Homo sapiens: one gene and its partner. The protein of the gene in region 2 purifies or fractionates together with the protein of the main gene of each other region. This does not show direct contact. Each region holds a gene or a part of one and is shown on either strand. Other genes may lie near its edges.

Region 1 (3,652 bases), on a different chromosome or scaffold from region 2:
GAGGAGCTAAGTGGGAATCAGGGTTCGGGGAGGGGTGTAGGGAAAGAAGAAGGTGAGGGCTGCCCCTGCCGTGAGCAAGGATAGTTGGTGCAGAGATTCTGTTCAACAATGTATTGAGCACCTTTTATCTGCCAGGGTCCATGGTGGGTGGTGAGGATGCAGTAGTAAGAGACATACCATCATTGCCTTCATAGGACTTACCAACCAGCGAGGGGATTGGCTTGTTTATTCATCGAACCAAGGAGCACCCACTGTGTGCCCGATGCTGGAAATAAAATGGTCTATTCAGCAATTAGAAGACTTAGAAAAAAAAATGATTTGTCCTTTACATGTAATGTAAATAGACCTTAATGTAATAGACCTTATAGGCATGAGATCTCATTTAATTCTCCCAAATAATTTCAAGAGGCAGGTTTCATTATTTCCATTTCACAGTATGGAAACAGGTTCAGAAAAGTAAATTCACTTGGTTAATGTCACACAGCTAGGAAGTGGTGGAGCGAGGGTTCTAACCCCAACGATCTGACATGCAGGTGCCCAGAAGCCCTGCAGAGGCTAATAGAGGGTTGTGGGAGAGAGGGGAGAGGAGCTGAGGTCTGCACACTTGCTCTCTGTGGGAGGCTTCTGTTCAGCTCCACCCCACGCAACCCCATTTTCTTCCCCTCTCCCCGCGACAGTCCGTTTGTCCCTTGGTGTTTTGTGCCCGCGGCAGTGACCGTTGTGTAACAGTGCTGGGGTGAGGGTGGGGAGTCAGAGCTGACCTGGCTACTGGGACAGTGGTGGCTGCCTCTGTGTGTTTTTTCTCTGGCCACAGCACTCAGCAAAATGGACCTTGGTCCCCGGGGTGGGCTGGAAGTGAAGTTTCCGGGTGAACTCTCACCTCTGTTCTCATCCCTTCCCAGATGTTGACACAGACAGTATTTCCTTCAGCTTTTCTGGGACTCCGTCCCCTCCTTATCCCTTACTCCTACACCCCTGACGGCACTTCTGCTCCTCTATCTGAGGGACATGGGTCCCTGCGCCTGTTCCCCCTCAGGCTCTGGCTTCTCAGGGTCCTGGGTGCCCATGTCACTGGGGGGAGGTAGGGCACCGTTGCCCAGGAAGGCAGCCAGGGCCCGGGGAAGGGCAGATAAGGCGCTGCATGTATCAAAGGCTGCTGTGTGGGATTAATGACTCCCAGTGCCCAACTGCTGGGGACAAAGTTCAGAGATGGTGGGAACACGGGTGAGGGAAGGCCTCCTTATTGCTGCTCCTGCCCTTCCAGGCCACCCTGGCTCTCTTCCTGCATTTCTACGGGCCCCTGGGTGAACAGCAGCAGCCTAGGAAGCCTGGGCTGGTTCATTCCTTGACCCTTAGGCCCACTGTTTCTTATTCCCTCCTTACGGGGCAAGGTTGGCAGTCCAGGAATGGTGGGGAGGCGGGTGTGACATAACAGGAATCAGATTCTAGCCTCAGATATTTCTGTTTCTTTCCCCCAGACTCTGGGATGTGAAGAGGCATTCTTGTTTCTCAAGTCCTGGTTCTTCCACATACTACTTCTGTGACTTAAGACAGTTTATTCTTTCTCAGCCCCCATTTGATCATCTGTAGTATGGGAAGGAGTGTAATAATAAATACTACCCATTTGAGAGGGTTGGGAGGAAAGAGATCATGTGTGTAAAATGCTTAGTACTGATAAAATCTTAGTGTTTGCTGAGATGATGATGATGATGAGTGATTATGATGGCAAAGGTGATGATAAAAGTTTGCAGGGGCTGGGCGCAGTGGCTCACGCCTGTAATCCCAGCACTTTGGGAGGCTGACGCAGGAGGATCACGAGGTCAGGAGATCAAGACCATCCTGGCTAACACGGTGAAACCCCGTCTCTACTAAAAATACAAAAAAAAAAAAAAAAAATTAGCTGGGCATGGTGGCGGGCGCCTGTAGTCCCAGCTACTCGGGAGGCTGAGGCAGGAGAATGGCGTGAACCTGGCAGGCGGAGCTTGCAGTGAGCCGGGATCGCGCCCCTGCACTCCAGCCTGGGCAACAGAGCAAGACTCCGTCTCAAGAAAAAAAAAACGTTTGCAGGACCGGGCCAGGCGCGGTGGCTCACGCCTGTAATCCTAGCACTTTGGGAGGCCGAGGCGGGCAGATCATGAGGTCAGGAGATCGAGACCATTGTGGCCAACACGGTGAAACCCCGTCTCTACTAAAATACAAAAAAAAAAAAAAAAAAATTTAGCCGGGCGTGGTGGCACGTGCCTGTAGTCCCAGCTACTTGGGAGGCTGAGGCAGGGGAATTGCTTGAACCCGAAAGGTGGAGGTTGCAGTGAGGCCAGATCGCACCACTGCACTCCAGCCTGGCAACGGAGTGAGACTCTGTCTCAAAAAAAAAAAAGAGTTTGCAGGACCTCAGGCTCTTTCTTAACTCCCTGGAATTATCTCAAAGTTGTACCCAGATGGTCCGACCATTGCATCACAATTGCTTGGGGGTTTCTCTAGGTCCCACCTCCTGAATAAAGATTCCTAAGGGTGGGGCCAGATAATCCTCATTTTGAAGAAACTCTCCAGATGCTTGAAAGGCCTAAGCCCTCTTCAACTCCTTTCCCCACTGTGAGCAACTCTCCCCCAACCCTGTTTTCCCCACATTCCTCCTACTTTCTGGGACCTTTCCCCAGCCCCGCCATCCCATACCTTCCTTGAGCTGGATATTATCCTGTGGTTCTCCTTCTCTTTCCAATTCAGAGGTTAGATACCACAGTCCTTAATTGGTTCTTTTGCTGGTTGAAGGTAAGACAACTCCTCAGGGTGAGAAAGAGCGTGTGGGGAGCGGAGGTAGTCTCACAAGCATGTGTGCCTGTTCTGCCTAGGAGGTTTGAAAGGTTATAGGGCCTCAGGTTGTGACTGTGAGATGGAGGAAGCCTGAGGCAGGGGCTTAATTCGTAGCTCTTGGAGTGGCCACACATCATTCGCCCTGACTGCCAGATCATGGCCCCCTGAATTAGCGGCTAAAATTTGTGAACAGTCATTTTTCCTGGAAAAATCTGTACCATGGTTTTATAAAATTCTTGAAGGAGGATGTGACCACAGAAGATTAACTATCTTAAGTATCCTCGATCTGGAGAGAACAGAGGCAAACAGTGACTGCCTTATTTATTCTCTTGGTCAGGTTTAGGGTAATTCCCGTGGGCTTCCCACATAACGCCTCACCTGCCAAGACTTTTGTAGAGAATTAGGGTGCACAGTGATACCACATTGTATATGCAGAGGAGGGTGGCAGCAGGATACAGTCCCATAAGAAAATGAGGTTCTCTGGTGATGGTCCTTTGACGATGTGTTTGGGTTGGGGTTGAAGTAGTCAGATGAGCCTTGTGCCAGGTCCATGCAGGTGGAGGGGGGGGGTGGGGGGTGGATCCAAATGGAGTACAGATAAATTCCTGCTTCCTTTAAAGAGATTAACATTCACACCAATCTGATAACGCCGCACACACTTTAGGGAGGGGCCTGTGCTTGGGGAAGGCCATACAGAGGAGGGGATGTGTTTGATTTATCTAAAGACTCTGTGCATTCAGTGAACATTTGCTGAGAGTCTACTATGTGCCCTAAACAGAGAAGACTTACATTTTACCCCAGGAAGTTCTTAGTGGTGTAGGGGAATCGGGTAAGTGAGCAA
Region 2 (3,652 bases):
CTTCCTTAACAGAGGAAATCTCTAAAAGAGGAGCAGGAATGCCTGGGCAGCATGGGCAGGTGGGCTTGCAGAATATGCAGATGTGCCCCATTTACCCTTTGCTGGAAGGGAAGTAAAGAAGAAGGGCAACTGTACTATGTGCTCATAGAATGTGGATTATTCAGCTTGCTCGTCATTGTTTCTTCCTCCAGATTACTCAACAAGAACTGGATACTGTTGTGAAAACTCAGCATGAGATTCTGAGACAAGTAAATGAAATGAAGTAAGTATGGAAAAGTAGCGTTTGTGTGTTATGTGATTTTTTTTATCCTAAATTTGTGACTTCAGGTGTGCAAGCACTGTATTGCAAGATTTCTGCATGAGGGTAAGAATCCCGTTCTAGATTCATTTTACAAATAGGGGACCATAAATACAGCAACTTTTAATATTCAAAAACTGCAAACATGTCTAAAGTTTTTAATTGTTTAGAGCTGGAAAAGAAAAAATGTTTTGGCATCTTTTAAAGAGATTTGTCAGTTACTTGACAGAGCCAGGTGTGTTCTTATATTTATAAAATATAAAAAGAATATGAAATAATATATAACACTTTTATGAAAAGTACTAGAGGAATAAATATGTGTAGCATTGTAAGACTATAATACAAGCAGACCTGATGCAGGAAATTCTTTTTGATGGAATGAAACCATTTTGAACGTAATATGTGTGACTACCTCTTTTTCATTCCCATCTTTTACTCTCAGAGAGACTGGACAGAGTTGGAGCAGAGAGGAGATAATTGTGTCCTTAGAATGTTGAACAATAAATTTCTAATGAGAATGATTGACTTATGCAGATAATTAATAGCTTTCAATGCCTGGAGCAGAGATAACAAACCATAGTGTCATGTTTCCATAACCTAACATTTCAGAGCACTGTCCCAACCGATAGAACCCTTGACAAACAAGAATGTCAAGGTGAGTTCTTTAGGACTGGAGAATTAAACAAGGTTAGATCAAACAGAAGGTGATTATACCTGATGTCTAGAGATTAAAGGCACTTAACTTATAACTGCAAATTTATATTTCTTCAATTTTTCTCTTTGCATTTTAAAAAATCTTCATAATCTGAACTCATGATTGAAATATTTATGATGCTAGATGAATAGTTTAGCTCTTCAAATAGTTTAGTTAAATGAATAGAATCCTTTTAGAAATAGACTGGATCATGTAACGCAACCTTTTTAAAAATCTTTTTATTTCGATCTAATTTTAGACCTCAGAAGCTACAGAAATAGTATGGGAAGTTTCTATACATTCTTCACCCATCTTTCTCTAATTTATATAACCATGGTTTAATTGTCAGAACCAGGAAATTAACATTGATACAATTCAATCAACTAAATTAATGACCTATTCAAAATTTATCAGTTTCTCCACCAAGGCCTATTCTATTCCAGGATCCCATCCACAATCGCACATTACATTTAGTTATTTTTTCTCTTTAGCCTTCTGCAGTCTGCAGTAGTTCATCTTCCCTTGTCTTTCATGACCTTGACATTTTCCAAGAGCATTAATCAGTTAATACCTTTTGATTTGGGTTTGGTTGGATGGAAGTTCCACATTTTGATAAGAAGATATTATATATTATAATATGTTATATAATATAATTATATATATTATTATATAAGATTGGTAAGATATTACTGATGATGTTGGCTGTGATCACTCGGTTATGGTGGTTTCCTATTGCTATCTCTACTTTAAAGTTACTGTATTTCCCTTTGTGGTTAGTATTTTGGAGAAGGTACTTTGAGACTATGTAAGTATCCATTTCAACCTTCTGCTCATTCATTTTAGCATCCATTGATGTTTCTTGCCTGTAACAAGAAAGTGGTTTTTGCCAAATGCTGATTTTTTTTTAATTTTTATTTTTATGTATTTATTTATTTATTTTTTTGAGACAGGGTCTAGCTCTGTTGCCCAGGCTGGAGTGCAGTAGTGCAATCACAGCTCTCTGCAGCCTCAACCTCCTGGGCTCAAATGATCCTCCCATCTCAGCCTCCTGAGTAGCTGGGACTACAGGTACATGCCACCACACCCAGCTAATTTTTCTATTTTTTTTGGAGTTGGGATTTTGCCATGTTGCCCAGGCTGATCTCAAACTCCTGGGCTCAAGCAGTCCTCCTGCCTCTGCCTCCCATAGTGTTGGGATTACAGGCGTGAGCCACCACGCCTGGCCCCGATGTTTATATTTCGAAATAATTCCCTCCATATTTGTTCATTGGAATTCTGCTGTCAGGACCAACTATCTTTTCTCTCCCATTTATTTATTTAGTTATTTATTTAGATCAGTTCAGACTCATGGATACTTATTCCATAGGTTACAGTCCAACACTCTCCTTATTTATTTTGCTGCTCAAATTGTTTCAGGTATGGTCATTCTGAGCTCCTTCATGTTGGCATCTTTGTTCTCTCAACAAGCCCTCATCTTTTTTTGAGCATTTTAAAAATTTATGGTACTGCTCTATCTTCTAGGGTCATCTTGTATTTTCTCTGCCCTCAGTGAGCCCTGGTTCCTTTTTCTTGAGAAAGGTATTTGAAAACCAACCTTTGGGCACTAGGTATGCTCATTACTACCGCGGTGCCGTTACCTCTAGGCCTCTTACTGGACAGAGCTAGGGAATATACATATGTATACCAACCCATGCATGTACATGAGTCTGTAGTTCCGTGTCTGTCAACCTACTCTTGTGTTAAACCATGAGATTATGCAGATATTTTGGATTCTGGCTGGACTGAACACTACAGAGTTAATTTTTAACTTTCCCCCTTGTCTTATTTGAAAATTCTTCCTCCAACAGGGAAAAACCTGGTTCTTATTATCTGTATCTATAACATATTTACTTATTGGTTTCACTTGAGTATGCATATAAGTACACACAAAGTGGTTTCAAATTGTTAGCTCGTATCCCTGTGAGAAAGACATTTACTGACAAGTTTATGTAAAGTTCCTTTTATCTCTAGCTTTACAGTATCCAGCCCAGATACTCTTTTCCAGATAGTTTCTTAGTGTAGTTCTCTTTTTCCCTACTCTTTTCATTATGGCTGATATTACTCATTTAGGATCCAGCTAGATTCTTTGTTAATGTTTATATTCCTCCTATATCCTGGTTGATTTAAATTGTTTGTATTTTGGGTATATGAATACTATGGTTCTAAGGGGCAGAGCATGTGTATATCGCTTCTTCATCCTTGCTACCACTTTCCCATCCTCCCCTTCTTTCCAGCTGTTTCCCACCCATTCCCTCTTGGTAACCAATTCTGTTAGCTTCCGGTTTGTTCTTCCTGTATTTCTTCTGCATATACGTATTTTCTTTTTCTTTTCTTTCTTTTTTTTTTTTTCTTTTGAGATGGAGTTTTGCTCTTGTTGCCTAGGCTGGAGTACACTGGTGCAATCTTGGCTCACCGCAACCTCTGCCTCCTGGGTTCATGCGATTCTTCTGCCTCAGCCTCCCGCCTAGCTGGGATTACAGGCACCTGACACCATGCCTGGCTACTTTTGTATTTTTAGTAGAGATGGGGTTTCTCCATGTTGGCCAGGCTGGTCTCGAACTCCTGACCTCAGGTGATCCACGCGCCTTGGCCTCCTAATGTGCTGGGATTACAGGTGTTAG

Evidence for each region.
Region 1: the proteins of LMAN1 (region 2) and PCDH1 fractionate together in Homo sapiens (co-fractionation; one large-scale study listed by BioGRID). This does not show direct contact.

The regions. Positions count from the first base shown.
Region 1 is NC_000005.10:141,871,858-141,875,509, reverse strand, and holds part of PCDH1 (protocadherin-1 isoform 2 precursor), read left to right. Parts: intron 1-3,652. UniProt on the Homo sapiens protein: May be involved in cell-cell interaction processes and in cell adhesion.
Region 2 is NC_000018.10:59,335,167-59,338,818, reverse strand, and holds part of LMAN1 (protein ERGIC-53 precursor), read left to right. Parts: coding exon 1-59; intron 60-191; coding exon 192-262; intron 263-3,652. UniProt on the Homo sapiens protein: Mannose-specific lectin. May recognize sugar residues of glycoproteins, glycolipids, or glycosylphosphatidyl inositol anchors and may be involved in the sorting or recycling of proteins, lipids, or both.